Linked DNA regions of Homo sapiens: region 2 is linked to region 1. The links come from fine-mapping of genetic effects on plasma protein levels. A gene starts in region 1. The other region holds a variant in brackets. All regions are shown on one strand. Distances are from middle to middle. Region 1 holds the start of GRK5 (G protein-coupled receptor kinase 5). Region 2 overlaps GRK5 (G protein-coupled receptor kinase 5).

Region 1 (8,332 bases):
CTATATTTTAGAAGGCCGATAGGTTTGTGGCTTTCCAGCATAGTAGACTTCTATTTACAAGAACTCTGACCCAGCAGCTTTATTCATGGCAGATACAGGTGCTGAGAGAAGAATTTGAAGGTTCCCTGTTTCTTTTGCTTTTTTATTTTTTAGAGACAGTCTTACTCTGTTACCCAAGCTGGAGTGCAGTGGGGCGATCATAGCTCAGTGCCACCATACCTGGCTAATTTTTAGGTTTATTTCGTAGAGACAGGGTCTCGCTATGTTGCCTAGGTTGGTCTCGAACTCCTGGGCTCAAGCGATCTCCACCCCCCCATCCCCTGCACCCTTGCTTTAGCCTCTAAAAGTGCTGGGATTGTAGGCATGAGCCACTGCATCTGACTTCTTTTGCATTTTTGGCTCAGCTGCTCCTGAGTGGAGTCTGAAGCTGGCTGTCTTTGACATATTCCCATCCCTCCATCCTCACCCCCACTCCTCCATTTGGATTTCCCTTCTTGCTCTCAGCTGGCTGTCAATGATTCCCTACTTAGCTATTTATATTTAATAGCCTACTCTTCCTTGAATCAAACCCATTTTTCAAGAAGACCACGAGTTGTTAGTGCAGTTAATTGAAAGGAATAAAGCCATAATGGTGGAATTATAGATGAAAATGGAAAACCCCTTGAAATCTTAATGATTTAGTCAACTGGGTGCTTTGCCTTCTTATAATACAAGTTCATCCCGGCAGCCACACAGAACAGTTACTACCAAGCTGTGCTGGCTAGCTTGCGCAAGCCAGAAATTAAGTGCACCAACTCTGAGTCAGGCTGACAGGTTCAAATCCCGGGTCTTCTACTTATTACTTATGTGACCCTGGACAAATTATAAAACCTTTCTTTTTTTTTGAGGAAAAAAAAAAAGTCTCACTCTGTTGCCCAGGCTGGAGTGCAATGGCATGATCTTGGCTCACTGCAACCTCTGGCTCCCGGGTTCAAGTCATTCTCCTACCTCAGCCTCCCGAGTAGCTGGGATTACAAGGCACCTGCCACTACACCCAGCTAATTTTTGTATTTTTAGTAGAGACGGGGTTTTACCATGTTAGGCTGGTCTCGAACTCCTGACCTCAGGTGATCTGCCTGCCTTGGCCTCCCAAAGTGTTGGGATTACAGGCGTGAGCCACCGTGCCCGGCCTATAAAACCTTTCTTAACCTGGTGCTTTATCTATAAAATAGGCCTGTGTTCCCTACCTCATCTGGATATTGTGTTCAAGGAGATAATCCATTTAAAAGACCACAAGAGCCTGGCCCACAGTTGGTGTTGAGTAAATGCTAGCCATTATTGTTCCATTCTTGCATTGGAGTGTCTGAATTTCCTCATAGAGGCACAAAAACCTGATGTACAACCATGTATTTGTGTAGGCAGGATGCAACAGCTTGTAGTGGACAAAAAAATAGTCTAACACTAACTTGCTGAGTGACCATGCCAACTCACTTACTTTGGGTCTGTTTCACATCTGTAAAATGAGAGGGAGAGGCAGGGGTTCCCAGGATGGAAAACTTAAATGTCTATACAGGCCAGATAAATAAAATCACTAGTGACTTGGGCTGGGTATAAGACAATAGGGAGTTACGGTAAACTAGAAAGCTTTTCAACTCTGAGTGTGGTCTACTGACCACGAGGATCGACAGAGCCCTGGAGTTTGTTAGAAAGAGCAACATCTCAGAAACCACCCCAGATCTATCCAAATGCAATCTGCATTTTAACAAGATCCCCCGTGATTTGTATGCTCATGAAACTTTGAGCCAGGCATGGTGGCTTATGCCTGTAATTCCAGCACTTTGGGAGGCAGAGGCGGGTTGGATCACTTGAGTCCAGGAGTTCAAGACCAGCCTGGCCATTATGGCGAAACCCCGTCTCTACTCAAAATACAAAAATTAGCCAGTCATGGTGGCACACACCTGTAATCCCAGCTACTTGGGAGGCTGAAGTACAAGAATCATTTGAACCTGGGAGGCCGAGGTTGCAGTGAGCCGAGATTGGGCCACTGCACTCCAGCCTGGGTGACAGAGTAACTGTCTCAAAACAAAACAAAACAAAAAAACAAACAAAAACAACCTTTGAGAAAATTGTTTTTTTTTTTTTTTTTTTTTTTTGGTTCGGAGTCTCGCTCTGTCGCCCAGGCTGGAGTGCAGTGGCGCGATCTCGGCTCATTGCAACCTCCGTCTCCCGGGTTCACGCCATTCTCCTGCCTCAGCCTCCTGAATAGCTGGGACTACAGGAGCCCAACACCACGCCCGGCTATTTTTTTTTTGTATTTTTAGTAGAGACAGGGTTTCACTGTTAGCCAGGATGGTCTCGATCTCCTGACCTCGTGATCCTCCCGCCTCGGCCTCCCAAAGTGCTGGGATTACAGGCGTAAGCCACCGCGCCCGGCCCAAGAAAATTGTTAAGGTGCATAAGCCATCTAAAGGCATTCAAAAATTTTCTTTCTTTTTTTTTTTATGTTAGCCGAATAAACAAACTTCGGGCTTCATCAGGCCCTATGCTGCCAGCAAGTGACCAGCGTGGTTGGTGGAGGGCTCTAGGAGCTGCCAGCTTTAGGGGTCTCGCTGTCTGAGAGAGATCCTTTCATTAAAGGTTAGGGCTCTAGGCACGTGAATATGTAGCAAAGACCAAGCCTGGATTGCTTAGAACAGTAATTCCTGGAGTGGTAAGTGCCTGAAAAGTTACCCGCTGAGCCCTCCGCCTTCTGACAGGTAAACTGTTGTTGCCCCCATTTTGCAGACAAGATAAATGAGGCCCTGGGAGACTCACTGACCCAAGTCTAGACACCAGGAAGTGGTGGTGGTGGGTATACTCCCCCAGGAAAGCAGGTAATCTTGGGTTGTTACAATCAGTGACCAGACCAGTTTCCAAGGCCTGGAAGGTTTATTGATTTCTTTATATTCTCCAATGCATAATAACTGTTCTCTGTTTCTCTCGGCACCTCCCTGCGACTTCCTGGCAGCCCTGGGGACAGAGGGTTTCCTCCTTCTGGACAGAGAAGGCCCAGAGTCGGCTTCTGAACGGATATCCGGCCCGCAGGATGCAGAGGAGGCAAAGGCCTCATTGTTCTTTGGGGCCTGCCTGCCCCGCCCCCAGCTGTAGGACACTCGTGGCAGATCCCGGGTGACCGAAGACAGCCCATTTCCAGGAGTGGGGCCTTCGGAGCGGAGGGAGCAAGGAAACGGGGCTGAGCACAGACCTGGAGTCTGATGTTCTGAGCATAACACTGGAAGGAGCTAAGAGCCCCAAAATAAATAAGACCGGAATTTAAAAACGTTAATCCCACGCCGGCTTGGCGCTGGCCTGGCTGTTACTCATTAACGCTCCCCACGGCGGAGACTCCGGCGACTCCGTCTGCGTTTTTATTACTTAATCTGGCTGGGTTTGGCTGCAGGGAGGCTCGTGGATTTGCTGGCCGGGTGTGCTGGAAGGCAGTTTATTCACAGAATAAGCAGCTTCCCACGCTGGACCCTGAGCCCCAGGCGCCGTCCGCGTAGACCCCGCGCCGCGCACCGCGGCCGGCGGGGGGCGCTCGGGTCGCACCGAGAGCAGCGCGGGCAGCCAGCGCCGGGTCGCAGCCGACCCGCAGAGCCCTTCGCGCCCTCCGAGGAAACAAAGTGCATCTTTGTCCGCGGCCCGAGGCGCCGCGTGGGAGACGCTGGGCAGGGGCCAGGCCGGGCCGGCCGCCGCCGCGTGCGGGGACCCTGGGCGCGCGTCACTGACCCGGGACTCAGACCCTCGCGGGCCTGGCGCGGACCGGAGGAAGCGGGCTGTGGCGCGCGGCCGAGCTGGCAGCCCTCCCACTCCGAGCACGGCTCGGGACCCGCACTGGCTCCTGCCGGGCCGCGGCGCTTCACGCGCCGTCACCGGGGCCCGTGCACTCCGCTTTCCGGGCTGGCGACGGGGCGGGAAGGGGGCAAGCGGGAGCCTGCGGGGGGGTGCTGGGGACTTCGGCTTGGCTGGGCCGCCTTTGAGTCGCCTGTCGGCCGGGCGGTGCCCGCCTTCGCTTTCGGTGCCGTCCCGGGGCGGGTCCTCGCTCCGACAGCCGCGCGCCAGCCCAGCTCAGCCCCGGCGCCGCGCGGCCGGGAGGACTCCAGCTCCCAGCAGGCCCCGCGCCGCGAGCACCGAGGCAGGAGGCGCGCCTGGGCCGGCGCTTGCGCAGTGCGGCCGCCCGAGCCTGCTAGTACCACACCCCCGGGAGGGACTGAGGGGAGGCAGAAGCATCCGAGGCATTAAAGCATCCGAGGGAGCCGGAGGGGAGGAGAATGGAGTGACAGAGACACGCGGAGGGTGGGGGGTGGGGGGGAGCGTGTTGAGGGAGGGGGGAGGGGGGACACAGAGGGAGGAAGAAGCGGCGGCGGCGGCGGCGGCGGCGGCGGCTCCTCTTTGCAGAGGGGGAAACTCTTGGGCTGAGAGCAGGAATAATGCGGTAGGCAAGGCGGGCTGCTGGCTCCCCCGGCTCCGGCAGCAGCGGCGGCAGCCCGAGCAGCGGCAGCAGCAGCGGCAGCACCCCAGGCGCTGACAGCCCCGCCGGCCGGCTCCGTTGCTGACCGCCGACTGTCAATGGAGCTGGAAAACATCGTGGCCAACACGGTCTTGCTGAAAGCCAGGGAAGGTAAGAGGCAGGGCCGGTACGTGCCCGGCGCGTCCGCCGCGGGCCAGGGTGCGGGTGTCGGGTGGCGTGCGGGCTGGGGCTGCGCCCGTGCAGGATGCCCGCTGCCGGCGAGTGGGTCGCGAGCAGGACACTTCGGAGAGCGGCTCTGCAGACCCTTCAGGGTTCCTGCCTTGGGGCTCAGAGAATCTGGACTTGGGCTGAGAAGGTTGCAGGGATTTGGATGCTAACATATCTCCTAGTTTCCAGCGCTCGCCCTGCAGAGCGTGCCATCTCGGCAGCTGTTGAAAGGTCAGTTGGAAAAGCATTCATTCGGGGAGCGACGAGCAAACATGCACATAAAATAGCGTTTCAAGTCGGCCCGGGATGGTTCTGTGTGAACTGGTGTGTGTGTTCGAGGGGCGGGGGTGGAATGAGCAGAAGCCAAGTCTTTGCCTGCGCAGGCTGAGTTGATATAGACTATTGCTGGAAACCATCCGCTGGGATGTTTCTTAGGGAAATCCCGTCGTGTGGAAGGAAGCCTTTTAAAGGCAAAGTCAGATGTTGAGGAATTAGCCTTTTCATAGAATTATCAAAGGATGGCTGTACAGACCACCTAGAAAATAATTCAGTATTTCAGGTTTTTCTTTTCTGGGAGTGTGATAACTGAAATTGTTAGATTTTGGCTCAGTTAAGAAAAGAAAGGTAAGTGTGCTGGTGCTTTAGATACGTTTTCTATGCAAATCATTAGATTTCCTGCATTTAGCTGGCAGGAAATATTGTCTAAATGGAGTGTGTAAGATCCTGAGTCAAACCCTAAGAACGCATATTTTGACTCTTCCTTTTGATGAAAAACAGAAAAAAGGGGGGGGAGGCAGAAACTTGGGTGCTTCCTGAAATGATTGTGTTGTGTCCATGTAAACATATGTATTTAGGAATACCTGGAATTTATGTCGCATATTTTCCTTTTTTTTTTCTGGTCAAGATTTGAGCTCTAGTGTGCGACCTTTTTCATAAAAGGGGAAGAGGTTTTTCCCTTTCACGGGAGAACGCTTTATTTGATACAAGGTAGAAGGCAGACTGAGTAAGGGCTTGAGTTTAGAAGGATACTCGGTGAGCAGCCCATGAAAATGTCTTACCTGCTTAATATTTTCATTCACCTACTTTGATGAATGAAGGGAAGAATTTCTGGCCAGCAATAAAACGATTCGTGTTTATTCAGCCCGTTCCATCACCTTGTGGCTCCCTACACACTGTGGGGGTAGGTGATGCATAGCCTTCCGTGGGCAGCGTTTCAGCAACTCAACCCGGCATTCGTGTCTTACTTTCGTCGTCACTTGTCACTCTAAAGCAGCCAGTGGGCAAGAAGGTTTATTTCAGAAGCCCCGAAGGGAGGCAGTGCTTTGAAAACCCCAGCAGAGTTTAAAATATTCAGGTTAGTCTCCCTCCCATTGCTTAGCTTTGGTGGGAATAAATTTTTAGGAGAGGCTTGTTACTTGGTGACTTCAGGTTCTAAGGCCTGAGCTGTGTGTGTGTGTGTGGTTTTTTTTTTTTTTTTTTTTTTTTTTTCCTAACCTGACATTTTTAGTGGACAGGATCTAGGTGGGTGCTGGTAGGCTCTCCTCTGGGTTGGGGAATGGTCCTGAAAGGGAGGAAGCAGAGAAAACAGCCCTCCACCTCCCCCGCCCCTCTTTCAGCCTTTGCAGCTGGCCACCTAGTGGTGGGACACGGTTGTGTATCTCAGGATTCGGGGGCTGGGAAAGTTTTCACTCTCGCTCCATTCTGAAATTATTTCTTGGGAAATCACTGGGTCTGATGGTACTGGAGCCTTGCAAGTTTCGCTGGTTCCTCCTGTTGCCCAGGGAATCTGCCCCCGACATTTGCTGCTGTAGATATTTGTTTGCCTGATAGATGCTTTTTTTCTTCCCTGAGCATTTGGTTGCTTCTTTTATAATGCTTTGCTTAGAGTGGGCAAAGTGATATCAATTCCACCCGCCCCCTCCAAATTGTTCTCCCCAGTATTTTTTCACCAACGTGAATTTACTGTCTGATATTGTTGTTCGTTAGGCCAACAAATTGGGTTTTTTTCCCAGAGCCTTGGAGAAGAGAGCTGCAGGCTGGAAGCTTGTGTGGAGTGACCGACTCCCATTGGGGCAGAATTACAGTGATTGAAAGTGCTCAAGAATGTGCCTTTCACTTTTTTTTTTCCTTTTAAAGGCTTTTTCAATTTTGCTGTGAGAGTTTGGTCGTCATCTCATGGTGAGAAAATAGCTCTTGATGATGCCTTGGAAATGGAGAGGGCCTGCGGAAGCAGGGAGAGACTGACACGTGAACAAGAAAAATTAATCATTTAATGGAAACCTCATTTACAATTTGCATCTCTCCCCTTCTTTCTCTCTTATGCCTAGAGGAAAGCCATGATTTTAAGTGCTTCCAGTTTCTTTTGGCTGGGCCTTTATTAGAGACTTGAGCCCATATATCCTAATTAGTGTGGACACTTTTAGAAATTAAAGCAATTTATGTTTCTCTTCTCAGTTCTCATATATTTGAATTTATTTTACTAAACTTAGTAGTTCTCCAAATAACCATATTATCTAAATATTCAGAAATGAAATCTTCAGTCAGTTTAGTGAAATATCTAATATAAAACAGTATATTAAAAAAATCTGAGTTGTTTAAAAGGTTTAAAAACACTTCTTAAAGATTCTTGTCAGTGGTTACAGATGAGAAATATAATTGGCAAATGTGAAATTTAATTTAGTTCACTTAACAAAATACACCGTAAGCAATTTAAAATTTGGCTTTCAAGTAAAAGTCACATTTGTCCCAAACAATAGAGAAACAGACCTTGAAGAAAGACAGGCACACTTTGAAAATGCTGTAAAATAATTTGTAGTTGTCCATGTTGGTGGGTAACACTGGGACCTATCTTTTCTTTTTGTTTTGCATTAAAGACAGATGGCTCCTAAATTCACTGTATCTTCAAAGTCTTACCGTAATAAGACATAATATAAAGTGGAAAGCATTAATGTAGCAATAAAATAGAAAGCCTGTAAGTGGATTAGAGTAAAATGATGGATTGTTAGTAATTAGAAAATATAGCAAGCAAGCTTCATGAACACTTGTGATAATTATTTTAAAATAAGAAAAGGTAGAGGTATGGGTTCAAGATTTTGAACCACGGAAATGTATTTTGGGGCCTGTTTATTTGTCCTGGGTCTCATGAGAAAACATCAACTCGATCACTCTTAGGAACTTTAGATTGCTCTCCTAAAAAGTGCTTAAGGAAAAAAAGAAAGAAGTTGAGACTGAATTCATGGCAATTTATGGGAATGAGCTAAGTGATTAAGCATTTCATGAAAAAGAGGCCCAGACTAACTCTATCTATTTATTTACATTTCAGAATCTCAGAAAATTGGCAGGCGACCTAATGTTGAAATAATAATGAGAAGGAGAGTTTGCTGAGTGCCTTTTGTGTGTTTCTTTTTGGTTTTATTGTTGCAGTAAAGGTTTTTGTGTTTTTCTCATCTTCTAGATCTGTTGCCTTTCTTCTGAGTGAACAGTGGTGAGAAAAAATTTTGCAAGGCCCCGCTTTTCCTTTCTTCACAGGCCAGCAGTAGCCATATCTGATCAAAAAAGATACCTGAAGGAATATTGATCACATTTTCCTGAGGCCCTAGCAAGCACAGGAATTGAGAAGTTAGGACTGGAACAACT
Region 2 (8,332 bases), 44 kb after region 1:
CAGCTCTGATGGGAATGTCACCTGAGAAGGGCTGGTCTCCTCGTGGATTTGCATTTCCGCACCTTCAGACACTGCCTCAGCCAGCTGCTGTTTTAACTGGCACAGAGGGCCTCGCTGAGAGCCTCTTGGGTTCTATCCAGATCTGAGAAGGAATCTGGGATGCCGGGGTCAGATCCGTGCCCTGGCCCGAGGATGGGATTTTGTACCCCGTTGCTTTCTGCAGTTGTGATGAGGTGGTGCTTGGCAATGGCCTGGAGCTCGGCATCTGAGTGACTGTCCGTCCTAGGGCGTCCAACTCCAGACCTCTCTTACCCAGGCCAGCGGAGGGCGGAAACTCTGAGAACATTCCATTAGAATAAGATACGTTTAATAAGAGCAATGGAAAATGGTAAACCTGACTTGGGGAAAGGGAATGTGCTCTTTCATGTAAAACAAACAAACAAAAAATGTGACTGTGAGAAGCATCCAGAAAAATACGATGACCTGGAGGCTGGATTTAAAATTGGCACTGAGGGAAATCTCATTTCCACAGTCGATGACTCCCCCTTCAGCTATGTTCATGCCAGTGGAGCAAACCAAAATAACTTTATAAATTAAAGTTTATGTAGTCAGGAAAGCTATGCCTGGACTATCACACACCAGATGAAACCCTTGAAGGCTTTGTTTACAACCGACATCCTGGGGTTGGAGGTTAATAGTGTCTGGAGAAGGTTAGGTCATGCACATGTTTAATAGCAATTAAAACAAAATCACTGGTGATGGTCAAAGAGACACAGCTATGTTTATTTACTATAGTTTATGCCACCTTTGTTTGTTTGTTTGTTTTGCCCTCTGGAAAAAATGTCTTTGTCCTGCCATAATTAATTGTAACCAGCTTTTGTTTAGAGGGGGCCACATGGAAACTGCTCAGAGAGCTCAAAGTGTGTTGGCAAGTGGTGACTTGTAACTAGTACCTCAATCATTTTCTTTTATGATACACATAATAGAAGGATGCATTTGGGATGTAAAAGTTTCAAATTATAGGGGCACATATATATACAGACAATCATGAAAGTCCCCCCCACCCTGCCTGGCTGCTGACATTTGGTGATAATCTTTCCAGACATCTTTCTAAATGCTGACTGTTTATATGTGAGTGAACAAGTGTTTATATCCATATGCACACAAATACGTAATTAGCTTTATTTTTATTTTAATTTCTTTTGAGACAGGGTCTCAGGCTGGAGTGCACTGGTGTGATCATAGCTCACTGCAGCCTCAACCTCCTGGACTCTAGCAATCCTCCCACCTTGGCCTCTGAAGGAGCTGGGACTATAGGCATGTACCACCACACCCAGCCAATTTTTAAATTTTTGTGTGGAGAAAGGGTCTTGCCATGTTGCCCAGGCTGGTCTCAAACTCCTGGGCTCAAGCAATCCTCCTGCCTCTGCCTCCCAAAGTGCTAGGATTATAGAAGTGAGCCACTATCGCTGGCTGTTGTCGTTATTTTTGATCCATAAAAAGAGGGTCATGATGTGTGTGTTGATGTACAGCTTGCTTTTTTCACTTACACATCCAGAGTTCCTTCACACTGGCCCATGTGCAGATGACATTTTTTTAATCCTGCAGGGCGTTCCATAATATGAATTCTGTTCCTAATTTATTGAGCCATTTCCTCACCCTTTCTTTTTGATACTAAATGAAGCAATGATAGCATGAGATTATGAATGTGCCTTGTGGAGCTTAGACTGCCTGGCTTTGAAACAGGACTTAGACTAGATGAGTGACCTAGGGCAGGGGGTGGCAAGCTATAGCCTCCATGGCAAATCCACCCCGCTGTGTTTCTGTAGGGCCTGTGAGGCAAGACTGATTTTTTCATTTTTAAATGGTTAAAAAAAAAAGGTAAGTATTTCCTAATATATGAAAACGGTGTGAAATTCAAAATTCAGTGTCCATTAACTTGTTTTGTTGAACAGCATGCTCATTTGTGGATCTATTATCTAGGGCTTTTTTCATGCCACAGAATTGAGTAGTTGTGACAGAGACCATATGGCCCACCTAGAATATTTACCATCTGGCCTTTTACAGAAAACATTTGCCGACCTCTGACCTAGGGCAAGTTACTAATCTCTCCATGTCTCAACTTTCTTTTCTTTAAAATGGAGATACTAGCTGGGCGCGGTGGCTCATGCCTGTAATCCCAGCATTTTGGGAGGCTGAGGTGGGTGGATCACCTGAGGTCAGAAGTTCAAGACCAGCCTGGTCAACATGGTGAAACCCCGTCTTTACTAAATATACAAAAAAATTAGCCGGGCATGGTGGCGGGTGCCTGTAATCCCAGCTACTCAGGAGGCTGAGACAGGAGAATAACTTGAACCCAGGAAGCGGAGGTTGCAGTGAGCCGAGATCGTGCCATTGTGCTCCAGCCTGGGCAACAAGAGCGAAACTTCGTCTCAAAAAACAAAAAACGAAAAACAAAAAGGAGATACTAATAATACCTACCTTGTAGGGTGAAGTGACTTAATATATATATCAAATAAATATCATATGTAGAATACCTACTTTGTAGGCTTATCTAAGTTACTTAGTACATATATCAAATAAATATTATGTGACACACCAGGTATATCATGTATCAAATATGTATGAATTGTGTGTAAACACTTTAAACATTTTATTTTATTTTATTTTACTTATTTGAGATGGAGTCTCACTCTGTTGCCCAGGCTGGAGTGCAATGGCGCGATCTCGGCTCACTGCAATCTCCATCTCCCAGGTTCAAGCAATTCTCTTGTCTCAGCCTCCTAAGTAGCTGGGACTACAGGTGCGCTCCACCATGCCCATCTAATTTTTTAAATATTTTTAGTAGAGATGGGGTTTCATCATGTTGGCCAGGCTGGTCTTGAACTCCTGACCTCAGGTGATCTGCCTACCTCGGCCTCCCAAAATGCTGGGATTATAGGCGTGAGCCACTGCGTCCAGCTGACTTTGAACTTTTTAAATGCTCAAAAAAGTTTACTATTACTGTGTCATTGTTATTGTAAGTGCATAACTCTTTGTGCACGTGTGCAAGGATGTCACAGATACCTGGCAGTGGGCTTAAAGATGAAGGGTCTTAACAAATTGCCTTCCAGAATGGCCCCACTAAGTCATGCTCCCAACAGTGGAGTCTCTGCTTTCCCGCATTCTTGGCAACTCTGGATAGGGACTAGGGCTTAGAAAAGAACACTGAATCCTCAAAGAGCCTCTGACCTCCACAGAGGCTCTTCAGAGTCTAGGAGTGCTGTGCCCAGACCTGTGGGGTGAATCTCCCTGGAAAGCCTTCAGTCAGAACATGCTCATTGTTTGTTGAGTGAGAGTCTCTTCTGTGTTAAGCCTTTGACCTGTAAATTTTCATTTTACAGATGAAGAAACTGAGGGGCTCAGAGAAATTAAATCACCTGCTCCAGGTCCTGAAGCTACTTGTGGATGTAGGGTTTGAACTCAGTTGTGGGGGCCTTCATACAACTTTCTTTGCCATTCTCCCTAATTCCAGGAAGGATAAGGCAACGTCAGAGATAGTCATTTTCTTTAACTTTTTCTTTTTCTTTTATTTGAGGCAGGGTCTCGCTCTGTCACCCAGGCTGGAGTGCAGTGGCGTCATCACAACCTATTACAACCTTGATCTCCCAGGCTCCAGGCATCCTACAGCCTCATTTAAATTTTTTTTTTTTTTTTGTACAGTCAAGGTCTCACTTTGTTGCCCAGGTCTTGAACTCCTGGACTCAAATGATCCTACTGCCTCGGCCTCCCAAAGTGCTGGGATTACAGGCATGAGCCACTGTGCCTGGCCCTACACCACATATTCCATCCACACTTTTTCCTTAAGTCAGCACCTTGATGACTGGATCAGAGCTACACACAAAATTGGAAGTGAACGTTGGAGAA[A/G]GTGGCTTAGTCATGACCTGTGTTTATCTCCTCTTGCTCTGAGTAAAGAGGATGTGTAATAGAGTATGTTACTATATTTTTCATATCCCGATGCCATAGCCTGTGCTGCCCAGTCACACTGAGAACAATGCAGTTCTCATAGATAACCCGTTGTTGGGTGATATGTCTATTTCTAGGCATCTCCACGCTCTCCTATCGAGGGCCTTTGCAACAGTATTTCCCATGTTCCATCAGCGCGTCTGCAAAACATGAAGCAGCTTCATTCACCCAGAGACTCCTGACCTTGTGCATGAGGGGAAAATGTTTCTGGTTTTGTGTGTGTTTTCAATGACGAACATTTGCATTCTTTCCTCCCCTCACTTTTTTTTTTTCTCACGTTGACATTAAGAAACAACAACAAAACGCTGCTTGCTCCCAAACTGTTTGAATTTAAAACTCTGAATCTTAATTTGCATAGACAGTAGTTCTTTACAAGGAATGTGAACCATTTGACAGAATTTCCTGAAGGAACAAAGAGCCATGATTTCCTGATTAAAACCATGTTAAAACAAAAAGCAGACTATAACCAAAAGGCTCTGTAAGAGTATTTCTTGTTCAATCAGATTTCAAAGGCAGCACAAGCTGGATGTTTATGGCATCACCAATGCCTTTCTGTGATGCCTGAGCTTTTCAAGAACATACTCAGAACTTTGTCTTAAGCCTGTCTTTACTCGGAGCTGTCTCCCGAAGCCTTGGCCTTCCTCTCCGCAGCTTCAGTTACTGAGTCACTGGAACAGAGGAAGAAGCCCAGGCTTCCATTCTGACAGGCTGCGAACATTTATCTGGAGTTGTAATTGTCATACTCCCACGTTATTTTCTTGCTGTCTTCTAAAGCGATGATGAAAGATGTCTGGGGGAAAGAAAATAAAACAAAAAACCTTCTAGCATCTACACACCTAAAGCAGGGTTTGTCAACCTTGACACCGTTGCCATCTGGGGCTGGATAATTCTTTGTCATGGGGGCCGGCCTGTGCGTTGGATGATGTTTAACAGCATCTGTGGCCTTTAGCTTCATAGTTATGACAACCAAAAATGTCTCCAGACTTTGTCAAATGTCCTCTTGGGGGTAAAATTGCTCCTGGTTGAGAACCACTCGCCTCGATTTTGGTGGTCTAGAATTTGCAAGCTGCTTCTCCGCCCTGTGCATATCCAATCCTCAGCCCTTCCACTAAGGATTAGAACTTGATTTTCTTCTTTTCATCCCACCCTCCCTGCCTTGAGATATTGCTGCATCTGGACAGATGTGCCAAGTACAATTCTGGCTCAGGTGACTGAAGTCTAAGTCAGACATATGTCTTCACTCTCCCTGACCATCCCTCTTGCTGCTGGCCTGCGTGGCGTGCTCGTGCCGATAGGGGCAGCTGTGTGAGTAGCAGGACCATCCTGGAGACAGCCATGCAAAGGGAAACCATCTGGGTGGGGTGAGCTTGCCAGCCCCAGCTACAGGTCCTGGTGGAGTTGACAGTTGATGGATCACTGTGCTGTGACCTCTGGGCAGCCCAGGCCTGCGACGGGCAGAGAGCTGTCTTGTTTCTCCTTTTGGAACCTGAAGGGCAGAGACAGGGTGAAGTTGCCAGGAGAGGCTTTCAGCTGGATCCTAGGGGCCAGCGTGCAGCCCTTTCCCAGGGCTGGGGGTAGGGGAGAAGTGTCTCTCTCTGGGCCGTGTGGATGGGCCAGAACCCTGAGCTGGGTGCAGAGGGCTACGCTGGAGAGGCGGGGAAGGGCACTGGACCGGGTGTCTCGAGACCTGGGCATGGTTTTAGTTCTACCCCGGGTAGCAGCACGATCTTGTGCAAATAGTGTCTTCCTTCTGGTCCTCATGTTTCTCGTAAAGCTGACTTCCAACTAGAACAGTCTACCTTTCTATTTTTCTCCTGATTTGTAGAAAAAGATGGTGCTGTTAAGAGACGGAAATGTGGCCTTCCTAAATTTGCTTTGAGTCCTGAGTTCCTGATTTGGGGGCAAGTGTCTGTGAAGGGCTTGGGGTCACTCTGTGGCTTTTGCCTCATTTTTATGGGTCGTAGAGGATACCTCAATAAATAGCATTTTTCTTCCCTGAACAAATTGAGAGATGAGGCCATGGTTGAAACTTTGAACTTTGGAACTTGCCCAGATGTATCAGGTCAGTCACCCTCCTCCCCTGGGGCCAATAAACCAAGTGTTCCAAAGGCCAGGTGGTCTTAGGGAAAATGATGGACCCTGAAGGGTGAGGGTCATGGCCAGTGTGGACTACAGAGGATCCCCTAGCCACACTGGAGAGGGGACAGTGCCCTGGTTTTCCTGATACGCCCCCTTAGTGCTCAAGGCTGGTTTCAACCCTGCTGTACTAATCTGCTGATGAGGGAGAGTTGGTGGCTCAGTGGTGACAGCACAGGTTTGACAGAGGGTGTCTACACCACCCAGTGCCCCCTTGAGCTCACATCTGAGGGTCTGTTGAGATTACAGAGGCCCTTGATAGAGTCCGAAATTTGAAGGACAAGCAAGGAAGATTGGAGCATCTGTGAACTATCTCCAGTTCAGCATTGCATTAGAAAAGGAATTACATCAGGTCACTGATGTCTTCTCCTAACTCAGTGATCTCCACAGCCCCCTGGATCCTGCCAGGCCTGTGGAGAAGAGGGACAAGCCAGCCTCCCCACCACCCCTGCCCTCCGTTCCTTTTATATTTAAATCAGAAGCTTAGGCTCCTCCGTGTAGCTGCTCTATTTTTCATGCCTCTTGCCTGGGTCTAAGCCCTGGAGCTTAGGGTGCTGTGATATGCTTGCGGGATGCTGCCCCACCACGGCTGGAACCAGGGCTTCAGCCCGGCGCACACCCAGCTCGTTTGGAGGTCACGGCTCACCATAAAAATGGTGTGAGTGGCCAGCTCTTTTTTCACTGTGGCTCTGGGCAGCCCAGCCCAGCTCCGGGGTGGATGCAAGGCCTGAGAGTGAACTTTGTTGTGAATGATGACACAATTCCAGAAAAATGCAGTGTCTCCCAGATACGGCTTCTGGAGCTTTGCCTGGGGTGGGGGGCTGGAGGTTGTTTAGTGTTTGGGTTCCTGGTGGTTCTTTGCCCCAGGGGTGTGTGTGTGTGTGTGTGTGTGTGTACACATGTGTGTGCGTGCATGCTTTTTCATGAGGCACACTTATTTTCAGATGTTCACATGGACTCTTTTTGAGATTCCCCAGGGGAAAAGGAGAAAGTACAGAAAGCCGTGACACCTGATGGAAAATATTACGCTTTAGTCAACAGGGCTGATGTGTCTCCTCTGACTTTGCCTTTAAACCAAACCACACCACAGCGGGGAAAGATGAGCCACACATGAGGCCTGCTGGGCCGGTGACTGTCCCCTAAAGTGGGACTCTTGTAATTCTAAGCGCCTTTGAAAAATGCTTTCAGAATCATCCAGTACTTGAGTTGTAGGGGGCCTGAAAGGTCATCTTGGCCCAGTGGCTTGTTTTAAAGGAGGAGGAAACTGAGGGCCAGAGAGGACCTATGACCCTCCCAGGGTTGCACAGCTAGAACTCAAATCCTGTCTCTTGATCCTCAGAGAAGGGTTTGGTCTGTTCTGTTCTGCCCTACTTTAGTTTTTAGACAGTGTATTGTGATAAGTTTTAGATTTTTTTTTTTGTACTCTGCTCTTATTCATTCAACAACTCTGGGGATTTACTGGGGAACAGGCAGACCTGGTCCTTGTGCTCAGGGGGCTTACAGCCTAATGGGAAAGGCAGCTTGGAACAAGAAACCGTGCATGGGATTTGTAGCGGGTGTGGCTATCTTATTTCTGGCCAGTATGGGGAGGGAGAAGGGGTGGGAGTTGATGGCTGGGGCACGGAGGATGTCATTTCAGCTCTGTGGCCTGGGTCAGGTGCCCAGCCCAGCAATCTGAGTGTGGATGACTCTGGACTATTTCTCCAGGAGGAGGTGGGATTCACAGGCAGAGACATATCAAAACAGGGACCTTGGGATGTATGATGTATTTTGTAAGAAAAAAATGGAAAAACAGGCCGGGCACGGTGGCTCACGCCTGTAATCTCAGCACTTTGGGAGGCTGAGACGGATGGATCACCTGAGGTCAGGAGTTCGAGACCAGCCTGGCCAATGTGGTGAAACCCCATCTCTACTAAAAATGCAAAAGTTAGCTGGGCATGTTGGCAGGTGCCTGTAATCCCAGCTACTCAGGAGGCTTAAGCAGGAGAATTGCTTTAACCCAGGAAGCCGAGATTGCGCCATTGCACTCCAGCCTGGGCGACAGAGCAAGACTCAGTCTCAAAAAAAAAAAAAAAAAAAGAAGGAAAAACAGAGTAGAGCAGGAAGCTCTGTGTATGTATGCGCAGGTAAGGTCGTCAGGTGGGAGGAGGCCAGGAGATGAGCCATTTGGAAGCCCGGAGGTGGCCTTGAC

The links. PIP is the chance, under the fine-mapping model, that this variant and not a neighbour inherited with it causes the effect. Protein levels are from antibody-based Olink assays in UK Biobank. Linkage for the fine-mapping came from a reference panel and not from the study's own genotypes, which makes the PIPs less certain.
Region 2: its variant is fine-mapped to the plasma level of the GRK5 protein (UK Biobank, PIP above 0.99).

The regions. Positions count from the first base shown.
Region 1 is chr10:119,203,331-119,211,662 of GRCh38, forward strand. It overlaps GRK5 (G protein-coupled receptor kinase 5), which reads left to right and starts at 4,241. Exons shown (of 16, transcript NM_005308.3): 1 at 4,241-4,639. The coding sequence starts at 4,588. It overlaps GRK5-IT1 (GRK5 intronic transcript 1), which reads left to right and starts at 5,091. Exons shown (of 2, transcript NR_186528.1): 1 at 5,091-5,320; 2 at 8,151-8,332. RefSeq lists enhancers at 2,748-2,827, 2,938-2,987, 3,008-3,117 and silencers at 3,458-4,287, 4,498-4,567, 4,618-4,667.
Region 2 is chr10:119,246,838-119,255,169 of GRCh38, forward strand. The region is part of intron 1 of GRK5 (G protein-coupled receptor kinase 5); the gene reads left to right. Among named protein-coding and RNA genes, the nearest start is that of GRK5-IT1, 43 kb to the left of the region's middle. The variant A/G (reference allele first, on the strand shown) is at 3,907.